2 separate regions of the Homo sapiens genome follow, and region 1 is linked to region 2. A link means that fine-mapping ties the variant in region 2 to the expression of a gene that starts in the linked region. Tissue or cell type: tibial nerve. Region 2 holds a variant in brackets; the other region holds the start of a gene. All regions are shown on one strand. Distances are from middle to middle.

Region 1 (8,107 bases), 230 kb before region 2:
GACGGCACGATCTGGTAGGAGACACTGCCGTTGAGACCCAGGTCGGGGTCGCGAGCAGACACAGAGAGCAGATAGGCGCCAGGCGTGTTGTTCTCCTGCACAATGACCTGGTAGTAGGGCTTGGAAAAGTGCGGGTGGTTGTCATTTTCGTCAGTGATGAGCACGGTAAAGGACTTGGCACTCTGCAGCATGGGCACGCCGCCGTCGCGTGCCTGAATTGTGAGGTTGTATTGGTCGTGCTGCTCGCGGTCCAGCCGTCCGTCCACCAGAATAGTGGAGAAGCTCTCATATTCCTGCAGTCGAAAGGGCACATTGCCCAGCAAACGGCACTGCACACGTCCATTGAGGCCTGAGTCGCGATCAGACACCCGCACCAAGGCGATCACGTAGCCCGGGGGGGCGCTCTCGCTGACCTCCACAAGCTCACTGTTGACTGACAGCAGGTTGATGACCGGCGGATTGTCATTGGTGTCCAGCACGCTGACGGTGACCTTGCAGTGTGCCGGGATGGAATTGGGCCCCAAGTCCTTAGCCTGCACGTCCAGTTCGTACACGTGCCCCTCTTCGTAGTCTAAAGCGCCAGTGACAGTGACCAGGCCACTGTGCGGGTCGATCTGAAAGAGCTCGCGCGTGCGGTCGTTGACGTAGCCATAGAAGGAGTAGACCACCTGGCCGTTGGTGCCCTCGTCTGGATCGCTGGCGTTGAGGCGGATGACGGGTGTGTTGGGAGGCGAGTTTTCTGGCACGCTCACCGCGTAGGTGGACTCGCTAAACACCGGGTTGTTGTCATTGGAGTCGGTCACCTTGATACTAAGGCCAACGGTGCCCAGGCGCGGCGGGTCGCCACCGTCTAGCGCAGTGATTCGGAAGCTGTAGTGCGACTGCGTCTCGCGGTCCAGGCTCTTTTCCACCACGAGTTCGGCAAAGCGGGAGCCGTCGCCGCGCGTCTTGATCTCCAGGCCGAACAGCTCGTTGGGCGTGAGCTCGTAAGTCTGCACGCCAAAGCTTCCTGAGTCTGGATCGTAAGCGCTGTCCAGCGGGATGCGCGTGCCAGGGCTGGCTGCCTCCGAGATCTCCAGCTCGATCTGTGCTGCCGGGAAACTGGGCGCATTGTCGTTCAGGTCCTTGATCTCCACCTTTATCACGCAGATTTCCATTGAGCTGGACATGACCTCGAGCGAGATGATGCACTTGGGGCTCTGGCGGCACAGCAGATCACGGTCAATCTTCTGCTTGGTGACCAGCAGGCCAGAGCTGGGATTGATGTCCACTAGGTGTGGAGCCGAGTTGGACACCACGCGAAAGGCTGAAGCCTGCCGGGGGTCCAGCGCGAAGCCCGCCTCTCGCGCGTCTTTGGCCACGTTGGCAATCACCGTCCCGGCGCGCTGCTCCTCTTCTACCGAGTACTTGAGATTAATGAGGGCGGCAGCCTGCGTCCACAGTATGGCCAGCAGCAGCAGCACCGGCAGCAGGAGCGACTCCATGGCTGCACGGGGCTCTGCCTGGCCTCGCCTCTCCACACCCCTCCGAGACCGACGCCGTCGGCGCTCCAGCTTCCCGCCGGCTCGGGCCGCCTGTTGCGCGCGCCCCGTGGCCCCGGAGGCCGCGGGAGAAGTCCCGCCCAGGGCGGCCCGGCGGCGCGCGGGGGACACCCGCGGCGGCTCCAATGCTGAGGTTGCGGCGGACGCGGCGGGGGCTCGCGGGGGCCCCGGGGGCTCCGAGGGGCCAAGGGAGCGCCGCGCGGCCCCGAGCCCCCTCCCTCCAGCCCGGCTACTCAGTTTTACCCCTTCAAAGTTAGCCGGGCGCGACTGTCGGCAGCCGCCCAGGGCTGCGGGTCGGGCGGCGTCTGCGCGGCCTGGAGGACGCACCGCTGAGTCCGGACAGTACTTGAGGCGAAGGTAAAGAGGGCGGAGGAGGCGCAGCCTTTCAGGCACTGCCCGGCCCGCCGCGGTGCACCGGCACTGAGGCTGGCGAACTCGCTGTCTGTGCACCTGGCATGCGCAAAGACCTCCCCCCAGCGCTCCCAGTTCACTGCGGAGAGAGTACCCGCTTGGAATGCGCCCTCCGGGGTCTGGGGGGGCCACACTGGCCTCTTCGAGGCCTGTTCGGGAGAAAGGGGGTGTCGCAGACGGGAGTCAGTTACTGGCAAGCGCCGCGGGCACCCGGTTATAGGGTTGAGTCGGATGGCGGTCCCGGGGCCAGCAGAGGAAGGGGGAGGGGAGAGAGGCTGCCAGAGCTTGAGCGCGCTCCCTCGCGCTAAGGCTGGCTTCGAAGGGCTTGGGGGCGCGTCTGTCCAGGATCCGAGGTGGGAGCGGAGTTCCCCCCACAGAGCAGTTGAGGGTCTGCGGGCGTTTTCGTCTAGGAAATCAAAGTTAACAACGCAGTCCGACCCTCCACGTCAAGTTTGTGGAAACGGGGAGATGGCAATTTGTCCAAGAAAATCAAAGCCCCGGTCTTTCTAATGGCCGGGGGTGGCGGGGAATGGGGAAGAGGGAAGGGGAGGCAACAACAGTACCGGCCAGGAGAGGCGGGGCCGCCGCCGTGGGTACCGGGTGCTTCTCTTCTCTCCGTTTGGGCTGGGGTGTCGCTCCAAGGTCCGCCGCCGCCGCCGCCGCCGCCGCCGCCGCGGGAGGAAGCCCTCCTAGCTCAGTTGCACGTCGCTGGGGTCCGCCTCAGCAGCTGCCACAGTCGACGATTTTGTCGCCGCCGAAGTTTACTTGCAGGAGCGTCTTGATTTCATCTTCCCGGAGAGGCGCTGGCCGCGCTGCGTTGGGCTCCCTTCCTCCCGGGCGCTCGCGCACTCGGGAGGTCTGTCTCGCTTTCTCTGTCTGTCTCGGGCTGTGTGTGAATGTGTGAGAGAGAGAGGAAGAGTGAGTGTGTGGTGTGGGGAGTGTGAGTGTGGAGTATGAGCAAGCAGGAGGCAATGGGTTTGGGGTAGGAGGTTTAGGATTTCGGATGAAATCGCTCAGCCGGAATGCTGCGGAGCGCAACGCGCCAAGGGCCAGCGCCGGGCTAGGGACGCGGGTGCCAGTGCCTCCCGGGCAAGCCAGGCATGGTGCACGGGAGCTGTGCTGCCGTCTGTGCCCGCTCGTCCGTCTCCGCGCTGCGCCAGCCGCCGCCGCTACTGCTGCTGCTGCTCCTCCGGATGCCGCAAACTACTGGCCGCGGAGTCTGGAGAAAGCCGGAGAAAGCTCAAGCTGCCGAGCCCGGCTACGCCAGGCCCTGGCCAATCAGCGCGCCGCCAGCGGGCTCCAGTCTTGGGGCGGGGCCAAGCGGAGGCGGGGGGTAGCGGGGGGGCGGGGCCAAGCGGAAACTTCACACCGGCGGGACCAAGTGGTACCCCGGCCCATGGAGCCCTGGCGGGATTCATGGGAGGACGGACAGACAGGCCAGGCAGGCCAGGCAGGAGCAATAGGGCAGGAATGAGCAGGGAGGCGGTGTGCTGGCGCTGCGGCTGAGCCTCGCCGGGAACTGTGCGCTTCTCATGTTTGCAGAGATTTCAGGAAAGATGAGGATGATATGATTGTCTTATCGTGTTTACCTCCCTTACATATCTTCATATCTTGAATATAATATATACATATATATACACATATATATATATATACACACATATATATATCCCTCTATTTCTCCTTGTCTCTTCACCCTAAAAAATCGTCTGTTTTTGTTTTCCTCTCTTCTCATTCTCTGGTAGTGGAAGGAAGAAAGGGAAGGAGAAAGCGCCCCTGAGGTGGTCATTCATCCAGCTCTTAGCCGGTGTGTCTTCACATCAGGCCAGAGCCACGGCCGCCACCCCCCCGGACCGTCACCCCCATCCTTCCACCCCGGGCAGACGCCGCACTACTCTCTGCGTGCCGCACTCCCAGCAGGGCCCCTGGATCGGTTCGCTCTTGTCTGTTGCTTGTTAATCAAATGGGATATGTGGCACAGAGAATGAGCTACGGAGGGGGCCGGACACATTTCATTGCCCCTCACCCCACCCTGTTGGAGAATTTAGCTCCCTATAAATAAACTGTACGTTTGAGAAGAGCCGGTGGAGCGGACGCCGCCGCGCCGCGCCAAGCCAGCAGAGCTCAAAGCCGGGCAGGAGCTCTGGGGCGGGCACGCCATACATGTCCGCTTAGGTCGCCGACAGCTGGGAGCCGGCGCCGATGTGCAGGGCGCCCCAGCCTTCCCGCGGGGTCTCGGTCCCAGGGGGCTGCCAGCTCCACTTGGGCGGCGGTGGTGGCTGCGGCATGTGCCAGTACTGGGAAGCGGGAGGCCGGCGTGGCCAGGGCTGACATCAAGCTCATCCTGCCTTCTGCACTGAAGGCTCCCTGGGGGCAGCGGGGCATTCCTCCCCACCCGGGCTCTGAGGCTTTTAATTAAGGTCGCCAGCGGCAAAAAAATCAAAAACGTGCCCGTTAAACAAGTTTTTTTTTCTCTTAGAATGTGGGGAAGCTGCTTCTGAATTCACAATTCTTGGAAGAGTAAAAATGTCTTCTGAGTGAGTCGTCTCGGATATTTGGGAGTGGGATAAGCAGACTCATAATTAGCCCAGCGACATTGGCTCGAGCCTGTGGGCTTCACATGAGCGTCATTTTTGCCCTCTAAAAAGCGTTAAACAAGAAAAGGAAACCGGCATTTGGACACATAATGGGTTTTCTCAAAACTGCCATCTTCTTGTGGAGAGCAACCCAGCTGCTTTTTAAAATATTTTTCCTTCCAAGAAGAGCTACTTTAGCAGCCTTTACCTTGGCGGTGGGAGAGGGGAAAGGCGGCTTCCTCTTACAGAAAGAAATTATTTCGCGAGTGAGATTGCGATCCCCTGAATATGTAGCCGAGGCCAAAGGGAGAGCGTAGGGAGCCTGATCCGCTTTCCGCGTGGGGGTCGTTTCACTGTTTCACGTTAGGATGTGATTCGGCCCAGAACAACAGGGAGAAAACCGATGCTTCTGCAATGAGTATCATTTAATTTTGGTCATTTAGAGCTGCGGGTGGACACCAGAGTGGTGGCTCAAGGGAGCCCGGTGGCCCGACCGGTTTTCTCCAGACACCGTTGGAGAAATGGGCAAGTAGTAGAGAATGACAACATGGCAGGCAGCGGTGGGCGCACCTCGCGGGCTCCGCGAAAGGAAGGGTTCCATTTGATTTATCACAGTTATTTACCTTTGATGTCAGAGCATGGGAATGAAGTGCATCTTGGTCTAATTAAAAAGGCCTAAAAAGGCATTTGAAATGGGTTTGCTATCTGATCACGGGATGTGAATTCGGCGTTTGGCAGCTTTCTAAAATATTGCTTGGACTATTTAAACAGAACAATTAGCAGCATGCTAAAATGTTTGCATGCTATGCTTAGAAGCTTTTAGCTGTAAACTTTAAGGCGATCTGTTCCCCCTTTAAGTTAAAAAAGGATGATGCTGCTTCCTTGTGGCGAAGGCTGTCAGGAACCCACTGATCAATAAAAGTAAACTGGCGCCTCCACGGCTTGATTGAGCGGGAGCAAAGAGTCTGAGAAGTAGTCTCGGCCATTAACAATCCCCCAGGTAACGAGAAATGGAAGAATTACTCAGGTAAAATGATTAACATTGTCGTAGCATCTGAAAAGATGCACACAACAAGATAAGAAGACTGCAGACCTCTTACCTTAGGGAGTGCTAATAGAATGTCTATATTCTGCTGTCTTTTAAAGATAAATAGGAGAATTCAATTCATGTACAATGTCATTACCTTCATAATTGCAATCACAATGTAAAGACATGTTCTGCATTTGCAAAGACAAACCCTCTTTGCTAAGGCGATGCCACCGTGTTCCCTGCTTCCTGCTCGCTGTTCACACTCCAGGCACCCCTCTTTTCCAAGGAGAGCATCCAAGTACTTCCAGCTACCAAACCACTTTTACACAAGCCAGGTGCTAAGGGAGGCAGGGGCGTGTGCCTATGCTTTCCTTCTTTCCTATTATCTCCTCCCCACCCCTAATCTCAAAGTGACAGTTACACAGCCTTCCCCATCCCCACACACAAAATAGCTCTTCCATCCCCCAGTCTATTTCTACAGATAATCCTAACAACAGCCTTTGCCCTCAGAATTTCTTTTTTTCTAATAGGCACACTCGATCATTATACTCCAAGAATGCCATTGACTAAATGAGTAGCCCAAAACACTTTCATGATCAGGAATTTATTAACTAACTGAATAAAATCGTTCTGCATGTAGATAATAAAAACAAGAAAGTTCTCTCCGTTTTAGCTTCCCTTTACTTCAATCCTGAAGGGAGCCCCGCCTCCTCAGCCTCTTTAGAGACACAAGAGGGACATCTAGTGACCATCCTCAGTATTTTTTAATCCAACAGCTACTAAGAAATACTAATACTAATGGTGCTATGCCGCCTACGGCTGCTCTCCAGGTCAAAGCAGCTCCACTGAGGCCAGAATCAAAATTGGCAAAGAGAATTTTTTTTGTCTTTAAAATGTCATCCATGCCACTAAAATCATGCTGAATGGCAATAAAAGAGGACCAAAATGGGAGAAATCTTACTTTTAGATCAAACCAGTATGTGAAGCTAATTCTTGTTCTCCTAAGATTGATAAGGGTATGGTGAAAGGTTTTGTCCAGAAAGGTGAAAAGTAATGGTAGGAACCAAGATACCAGTATATGAGGGACTGTAACTCTGACAAGTTTAAGGAAGCTTTCTGAGATGTGTTTGTTTTGTTCTGTTGTTTTAGAGACAAGGTGTCATTCTGTCGCCCAGGCTAGAGTGCAATGCTGCAGACATGGCTCACTGTAACCTCAAACTCCAGGGCTCAAGCAATCCTACCACCTCAGCCTCCTGAGTAGCTAGGATTATACAGGTGTGCACTGTCACACCTGGCTCATTCTTTTCATTTTATTTTTTGTAGAAATGGGGTATCTCTCTGTTGTCCAGGCTGGTCTCAAACTGGCCTCAAGCAATCCTTCTCCCCTGGCCTCCCAAAGTGCTAAGATTACAGGCATAAGCTACTGTGCCCTAGCCTGAGATATGTTTTTTTTTTTTTAATGTTTGCTTTAAGCTCAAAAGAGATTAGCCTTCAAATAACTCCAGTCTCTCTCTTTCTCTCCTCCTCCTCCTCCTTCCTTTTGCCCCCTTCTCTTTGCCCTGGCTGCAGAAAAGTGGGTCATCTTCTAGCTTGGCTTTCACTGCATATCATGGGGATCCCATTCCACCCAACTAGTTTGACCAGCTGCCTGATGAGGTTCTCTTAGAAAGAAAAAATTGATTTTAAAATTAGCAAATTCAATCAAACTTCTTCTGACTGCATATCTGATCTCCTTACTTAGGTTACAATGCCTAGAGAAGAGAACATCAAAGAATGAAAATGGAGGAAATGGGAAAAAAACTATAAAGTGTCATTATTAAAGTCATCATCTTATTTAATTTTTACAATATCCCTGGGAGATAAAGACACTTTGCAGATGTGGAAACAGTTGCAGAGCAGTTCAACGATTTTCCAAGACGACCTCATTACACAAAACTCAACCACTTCCCTCGTGAGATCAACAAGTGTTGGCTTTTTGTCCAGCATTGTGTTAAGGATTGAGAATTTTTTTTAGTGGACCTTGCCCTTATGTAGTTTAACATGCAGTTGATTAATTTAATAACAGCATGTATGTCTATGTACTATAAATTTTCCTAGAGGAGAAACTAGGATGAGATATATTATGTCGACAGCTTCCTAAAATTCTGTTCTCTTCTGCCCACAATGATTGCCCGATTTCTAGATAGTCCTTCCCTCCCTTCCTGCCTCCCCCGCCACTGTCCCAGACAGTATAAGGAAAGGCATCAACAGCAGCAATCAGGGATGTGGACCTGCTGGGCAGGGGTGGGGTTATCCTGGATGCTGTTTCTAACCCTTCTGGAACACCAAGAAGACTAGGACAGAGGCCAAGAAAAACCTTTGAGGTCCCTCACACTTTTCCCTCTCTTCCTCTCAAACTCCACCCCTTTTCCTACCCTGTGACAGAGGATAACATTAACAGCAGGGAGCTGTAGCAGATAAACAAAGTAGAGAAAGTGTTTCTTAAGTGCTAAAATTGTTCACCATGGCCCCGATGCCTGCCTTTTCCAAGAAACACAAGAGATGTGCGG
Region 2 (8,107 bases):
AAATCCTCTAGAAAGTTTTTGGTTTCAGGTCAAATAAGTTCTCGAATCTGACCAATGGTCATATCTTTGACAGCAGCAACATGTATAGTAATTAACTTCCATGGTACAGTCCTGTCCTCTAAGGGGTATAGGTTAGCTGAGGGGACTACTAAGCAAAACATTAAAATATATGATGAGAACCACTACAAGTTCAAAGTGCTGTGGGAATATGTATTTATCTGAGTGGCAATGCAGTATTGCTGTATTCTGCACCCTGCTAATTTTTCTCCACTTTAAACTGAGTTCAAATTCGATGCCTATGGAATTTGTAAGCTACAAAACCTTACTTTGGGAGGCTGTGCTACCACTTTATGAGAACTCTCATTAATGAGCCTTTGCTACTCACCGAATGTTATTTGAACAACCCCAAGTTTACCTGTTTTCTAATTCAGTATTAAGCTTTTTTTTTTTGAGATGGAGTCTCGCTCTGCTGCCCAGGCTGCAGTGCAGTGGCGCGATCTCGGCTCACTGCAAGCTCCATCTCCCGGGTTCATGCCATTCTCCTGCCTCAGCCTCCCGAGCAGCTGGGACTACAGGCACCTACCACCACGCCCGGCTAATTTTTTGTTTTTTTTTGTATTTTTAGTAGAGACAGTTTCACCGTGTTAGCCAGGGTGGTCTCGATCCCCTGACCTCGTGATCCACCTGCCTCGGCCTCCCAAAGTGCTGGGATTACAGGCGTGAGCCAACGCGCCCGGCCCAATATTAAACTTCTGATGATTTGCATTAAGTATATCCAATCTTTTCAAAATGCAAGGCATAAGAAGGTTATCAATTTTGTGCTTTGAATATTTTCCTATCAGCAAAGTTATAAATTGTACTATCTCCGTTTTAATAGGTATTTATACACAGAAAAACGACAGGGAATATAAGTAAGTAATTTTCTTCTGGTGACTATCAGTCTTTACAATTTTCTAAATTTTCTTTTAAATTAGAAGTGGACCAGAATTTTTACAAGAAGGCCATTATTGTCAGCTACAGGTTTAAATACAGAGGTCTGACTCTTCTACTTTAATAAATCCATTTTTATCTCTCAGAGGATAAATGTAACATGCTAAGCTTCCCTAATTCAGGCTTACCTCATGTCTGAAAACAAATCCTACGATGGCAGCGACCAGTTCGACCAAAAAAACGAGAGTCAGAAACATTGCATACTGCAGGATAAGAAAGAAAGTCCAAGTCAGCATAAATAAGATATAGCACAACTGCAAAGGGAGTCAAAGAAAAAATAATGGTCGTCTTCTCAATTAGTTCATCATGTTTTCATTGAAAAGGGCAGGGAAAATAACAACATGTCTATTTTGAAAGTGGAAACTGGCAGCTGAACTGTTACTTGATAAGTTTCCATAAGGAACAGGAAAAATTGTAAAGGGCCATGGCCAGTTCCAACAAAGGAATTCTATAACATACAAAACTTTTCTAAAACCAAGAATCAATTCTAATGAAAACAAGGACTCACCAGTTTTAGCATCCATGCAGAAGCTCGGCAGGTAGCAAAACAACCAAAGGTGCCCAAAAGAATAATGACGGTACCAGTAGCAATGAGCACGAAGGGGACATTGGTGGCCTTCTCATTTAAAAGAGAAAAGTAATTCTCCAGGCTCACCTTGCCCCAAATGCCAACTGCAAGAAGGATAACGCCAGTGATCTATGTGGGAATTCAGAGAATACAAACAGTTACGCACTGTGTACAGCAGCATCTTCAAATCACAACGCATGAGGTATTTAAGGCACAATAGGTGTAATATGCTGGGATACGGCAGACAAGGGGGAAGAGTAGAAGGGGTTAGGGGGGGATCTGCACACAAGAGCAGGCTGTGGACCAGGTATCTTATCAAAATTCTTAAAATTCATCTTTTTGTGTGTAAACACAAGCCCATGGCATATTTGCCCTAGGGATCAAAACTTCCTTAACTATCTTACTCCAACCTTAGGAAGAAAACCTTGAAGGGGAAAAAAAAAACGTGATTTTATGAGTTCCAGAAACTTCCCCCGTCCTCTCCAGGTAGGGATGGGCACAGGGTACAAAGGACTGGTACACAAAAGCAAGCCCAAGGATAGACTGGCGGGAGTGGAGGCATACCATACTTACCTGCGAAACACTCCTCTCTTACGAAGCAGTGAAAAGAAAGACACTATTATGCAAGTGAGCCCTCAAAGGGGCCGGGCAAGCCTTGCTTGCCTTTGCAAAGGTCCAGGGTCACCGTCTGCGTGCTCTGGGGGCTTAAGGCCCCACCTCGCCTCCCGTATCGAACTCGAACGCTGGTACGTCTGGGTCCCAGCTCAGCCTCTCGGCTGCCTTCGTCCCGCACTCCGACCCCAGCGCCGGCGAGATGCCTGAGCTCTTTGTTCGGGGCCCAGTCACTGGTCGCCGGCGTCGGGGTCCCAGGCGCGATGGCCGCCCAAACCCCACACCGTTCCCGACCTGAGCTCCCGCCGCTCAGGGTCACACCCCCCACAACTAAAAGCCCGGGATCCCCTGCCGGCCCCAGGCGCCTTCGTCTCTCACCCAGAAAATAAAAGTGTAGATTAGCAGAACGCTCTTGAAACAAGTAATGACTGGTTTAGTCTGCAGTCTCCGAGACGGGGACGCCATGACTAGCCCGAGACCCTGCACCACCGCACCGGGCGATTGGAACACAGAGAGCGAGACGCGGAGTCCCCGAGTCTCCCCGGAAACTGCCGAAAACTTACGAGCGTCCACAACTGAGAAGGGCCGGAAACACTGTACAATTTTGTAGAGGGTAAAGTATGGGAGGCTGTCCGGAAAGTGGCAACAATTTCAGAGCGCCCCCTGCCGAAGGTTACCGAAAACTATATACAAAGGTTCTAGTGTCGGAAATTTCATAGGTCTTCAAGTGGAGCTTTCTTCATTGTTTTTTTTCTATCCTAAGGAATCTTTCCCGCCCCCCACCCCTCCCCTCTCCTTATAACTTCACCATATTGTTTCTATCACCAGCAGAGCCCGCAGCGCTCTGAGATTGGGCCTCCCTGGCCCCTGGTGCCCTAGAGAGAAGGAAAAGAATGAAGAGGTTAAAAGCGACCTAAGAAAATACATGGGAAAATACCCACAAGAAATATATTTGCAAAAAGAAAGCGGATTGCAAAGCAATACATACAGTCACGTGTGCTTAGACAAAAACTGAAAGGAACAGTGAAATTTACCTCTGGTGGAATTAGGCTGATTTTTTTCTCACTTGTGTGCTTTTCAATTTGTGAACATTGTTTTATGGGTTAGGAAGGGGAGATGTGAATGGAGGAAAATAATCACCACTTGTTGAAAGAATTTCTAAGCTAGGTATTAAAGATAATAATGACTTTAGAATTTACCTGCAGGACTTTGCAAAACCCCAGTATTCCTCTCCTTTTTTATCCCCTAAGTAATTGGAAAGTTGAGGGAAAGTATTTTTACATAATAGTGAAATGTAAGTTCAGCTATTCGCTGTAAACTTTTAAAAAGAGAGAGTGCAATGGAAAAATCCCTGGTGAGTGTGACCTCCTCTTAAATGTTAAAACAGAAAGGCACTGTACATTCCAGCCACCTGGTTTTTCCCATCAAAACCCAGCTGATTACAGAGAGATTAAAACCTAATGTTATATATTGTGAATATATTGGTCTATGTTGTTACAACACAGGAGGTGCGTTAAGGTCTGATTTCTCAACTAAAGCGTCAGCTCTTTGAAGGCAGAGACTGAGTGTTAAGTGAGTTTGTGTTATCTCTAGAGGAACGGGGTTAGAAGGCTGTATCAGTTCCCTATGCAATCCAACCCTTCATCATTGACACAAGCTTAATATCACAAGTGGCTATTTACTCTATTGCCATTGCAAAAAGACCTGCATTTGTGGAGGAGAGATGAATACTCAAACTTTTCTGCTTGAAACGTTGCTTTAAACATACACCTCAGGACCAGAACACAGGAAAGTTCCATTGACTTGGTCACACAGAGCTTCCCTGTGCTTCGAATATTGACCTAGGACCAGTTCCTATAACATCTTGCCAGACGTCTGAGGTGCAAGGCAGCAACTGTTGGAAAATTAATTATTGCA[T/C]TGCCAGGCTTTATACTAAAATTTTTACTAAAATTTGAAAGGCCTAATACACAAATACATGGAGAGAATGGATAAACGATACATCTACATACACCTTCAAACACTTTGAGGTAAAGTCGTTAGGAAATACCAAATATTCAACATGGTGGAGGGGGGTGTCTAAGTATATGCAAAGATTTCTCCCTAGGCTAAATGACCCCAACTGAAGGGTTCTTATACTAAAAACAAGGATCAAGGGAAGTCTTGATAACTTCTTGTCATCTTAAAGAGAAGTTTCTCTGAAACTTAGATATGTACTGAAAGGGATTTACAGTGTGAGCCCAAGAGCAAAGAAATATGTCTGTAGCTGAAGAAAAAACAAAATAGCAAAGCAAAAGCCACATCTTATTTCCAAGAATGTGTTGACTTTCCTCCTCTCCCTTCCTCTACCACTCACAACGCTGCTTTGTTTGAATAACACTCGGTGCCAAATTAAACCAAATGCTGACATGGAAATTCATATTCCTATGGCTACAACACCTTGCACCATTGCCTCCTACTCTGCTACACCCACTTCCATCTCCCCACCCCCACAATGCCACCAAACCGAGAAATTCAATTTAGTTCAAACCTAGGCCTGGGTTTGGGTACAAACCCAGACCAAAGGGGCATCTAATCCCGTTTAAGGCAATTTAAGAAGTATTTCCCTAGGCCACTAGATAAATGTATTCTTTAAAGTATTAATAATGACTGTGATAATAAGTATTGACTGTATACCAACCACTATTGCTAAGAGCTTGATACACATTACCTCGTATGCACACATCACAAGAACCCTATTATGAGGTTGACACACCTAGCACCTTCATTTTACAGATGAAGAAACAGGTTGAAAGAGACCAAGTAAGCTGCCTAGGACTAAACCTGGGCAACTTCTGTGTCTTTCATCAGAAATGGGGCCCACTTTGTGATGAAACATAGCTGCTGTTGTACGTACAGCTGCCTCTGCGCAGAGTAACCTGAGTAAAGACTGCTGTTGCACAGACATTTAACCTAAAACAAGGACTCCTCGGAGCCTCTGAAGCTTAAGAACCTCAATGATTGCCCCAATTCTGCCTTGCACTTGGGGTTTTTTGGTTGAGTTTGGCTTTTGCCTTCACTCCAATAGCCCAGCCACCTAGGAAGTAACCCTACCTGCCCCAGAGTGGTAAGGCAGAGAGTTCAGTACTTTTTCTTGTTCAACCTCTTAATTTCTCCCTCTTTCTGAGCACAGAAACACAATTTGATGCCAACAATGTAGGAAAAAAGGAAAATACTTTAAGTATTGTTACTGCTTGTTTTACATGGAACATTTAGTAGCCCCCCTTCCCAATTAATTTCCTGTAACCTTCAAGATTAGGTGTAAATGTTTTTCATTGCTAGACATCAGGCAAGGGAAATGACATAAACAAGGGCTCACTGTTAAGTCAGACCTCCCTTGTGCCACCTCCAGCCTCCCTCCATCCCTACCAAGCCCCTCATCCCAATACAATCTCAACTGATTTCCTACTGCTTTTCCAATGTGAATTTTCTGCTCTGTACCAGGTCAGTATGATCAACCCCCCAATTAAACAAGTCCTATTCCCTAGTCCCTGCCCACCCTCAACTTCACTCATACTTTCTGCTTCTACTGAATATCCAGTTCAATCCCAACTCAGTAAAAAGTCCCTCCTTCCTCACCTCTTTCTCTAACACCATAACTGTCTTAACTACACACTCACTCCCATTAACCCAGCCCTTTAGTCAATTACTGCAATATCTGCTTTGCATTTCTACTTACCTATTCTACATCCTACCGTCTAGATGTTCAGAAACTACTGAAGAGCTAGTGTGGCAGGGCCCCTATGCCCCCTTTTATACTCTCCTCAGTACCCTAGGACATAATGCCCAATTGATGAGTTCATTTTCTGCTCGGCCAATCCCTGTTGAGCTGATTGCTCATTGAGGTCATAACTGGTCTCTGGGAGCAACCACATAGTAATTACTCAGGATTGATTGTTGAAATTAAATAAAAAATTAAATGTCTAAGCCATCCCAGTATCACACTATAATAAAACAGAAAAAATTAAATTGAGTACCTAGATAATGTCTTGGGACATTCCTCTCTCTCTCAGGAACCACTAAAATAATAACAACAACAATAATAATAATAATAAACTGTATCGCTGAGTGTACATCTTATCTCTTATTCACATAATAACTTTACCATTTTCATTTTCTAATCCCTTTTCTAGCATCCCTTCAATTACCTTTGGCTAAGTGCCTATCATAGAATTTAAAGGCGCATCCTACTTATTTTCTTAATATCTCATATTTTATGTTACAGCCATCAGATACCTCATTATTTAAACAGTTAATTCATATGTACAGTTTTAAAAATCCATTTCGTTAATGGAATATCTCTTTATTTCTATTGTCTCTTGTGCATTCCCATTCTCCTTCTCTGAAATTCTATTCTTTGTCTATTTTTATGCCCTTGTTTTCCATCCACTCCTTTCAGATGCTCTGTGAAACCTTTCCTCCCTTTCCATCCCTGATCTTGCCTTCTTCAAAAAAGCTCATAATATACAGTTTGGGACACATAGACATGATAAATACTTTTTTTTTTTTTGAGACGGAGTCTCGCTCTGTCGCCCAGGCTGGAGTGCAGTGGTGCCATCTCGGCTCACTGCAAGCTCCACCTCCCGGGTTCATGCCATTCTCTGGTCTCAGCTTCCCGAGTAGCTGGGACTACAGGTGCCCGATACCACGCCCGGCTAATTTTTTGTATTTTTAGTAGAGACGGGGTTTCACCGTGTTAGACAGGATGGTCTCGATCTCCTGACCTTGTGATTCGCCTGCCTCGGCCTCCCAAAGTGCTGGGATTACAGGCGTGAGCCTCCGCGCCCAGCCATAAATACTTTTAAATGGTATTAAAATTGACAATTCTATGTCCATTTTCTAAGAAAGTTGTTTCTAGTCTAGCCTTGTTGAGCTTTCCTGAGATCTCAACTAGGGAAGTCAGTTTCCATATCTAATATTTCGTAAAACAATACCTTATTTACTGCTGAGGGGCTTCATATTAAAAGTCTTAAAGTTGAAAATGGTACTGAACTTTAAGAAACTTAAGAAATTGAGTATGCCTGGATGCTGTCAGTCTCCTTATCCACCTTTGTCTTATCCTCCCAACCAAACCATAAAGAGAGGTGTTTTATTTTACTTTGTAGCCTCACAGTATCTAACGTTGTGTTTTACACACTGAGTATGTGCTGCAGAAACATTGGGGTTATTATAATTAACCTCACTTGTTTTGGGTGAGCTCTTTATATTATTAATCCCAATGCTTTGCAAGAATGCTGTCTCTCTCTTCTGACATATCCCCTTACTTTGATCTCCCTATGATTTCCATATTCTCCCCCTTCACTTTCTTCTTTAACCTCTCTCTGGAACCCTTCTGTCCCACTGCTTCCAGCTTTCAGTGGGATTGAGGCCTTACGCAGCATCTTCACCCTGGCATGTGCTAGGCTTTGTGTTGGATGGCTGGGGATATGAAGAAGACTAGGATAAGGTTCTTGCCCTTATAAGCACTCATAGTCTAGTAGGAGTCAGAGATAAGTAAAGAACAATGCCAATAAGTGTGAAAAGTCCTAAAATTGAGATATGTACAAAGTGCTGTGAGAGAAAAGGAAGGCAAAGTTAACCATCTTGGGCTGGGATGGGCTGGGGGAAGGTTCCTAGCAGCAAGGGTGGGTAGAGTTCCAACAAGCCAAGAAAGGAGGGAAGGGACCATGGAGCAGAGTGAACACGTCTGTGCAGAGGCTCCAGGGTGTGAAAGGAAGAACAAGAAGCTCAAGGAAGAGCATGAGGCAGAGGGTGTCCAGAATGAGGAGGCATGGGGTGAATGCTTAAAACTAGGCTAAGGACATAGGTGGGGTTTGCTTGTGAAGAACATGGTATGCAATGCTAAGGAACTCAGACCGTACACTATGCCAAGAGGGAGCCAGTGAGGGGGGTCTAAGAAAG

Which allele goes with the higher level. Alleles are on the strand shown, and positions count from the first base shown. SD is a standard deviation of normalised expression in the study named.
For the expression in tibial nerve of the gene that starts at base 3,160 in region 1, allele T in region 2 goes with a lower level than allele C (small effect, 0.21 SD a copy in GTEx).

What was found. PIP is the estimated chance that this variant, and not a neighbour inherited with it, causes the effect.
Region 1: it holds the start of PCDH19, and the variant in region 2 is fine-mapped to the expression of PCDH19 in tibial nerve (GTEx, PIP 0.99).

Annotation. Positions count from the first base shown.
Region 1 is chrX:100,407,114-100,415,220 of GRCh38, forward strand. It overlaps PCDH19 (protocadherin 19), which reads right to left and starts at 3,160. Exons shown (of 6, transcript NM_001184880.2): 1 at 1-3,160. The coding sequence starts at 1,484.
Region 2 is chrX:100,634,060-100,642,166 of GRCh38, forward strand. TSPAN6 (tetraspanin 6) reads right to left here and starts at 2,747. Exons shown (of 8, transcript NM_003270.4): 1 at 2,549-2,747; 2 at 1,499-1,687; 3 at 1,119-1,193. The coding sequence starts at 2,635. RefSeq lists enhancers at 1,711-2,326, 2,327-2,942. The variant T/C (reference allele first, on the strand shown) is at 4,088.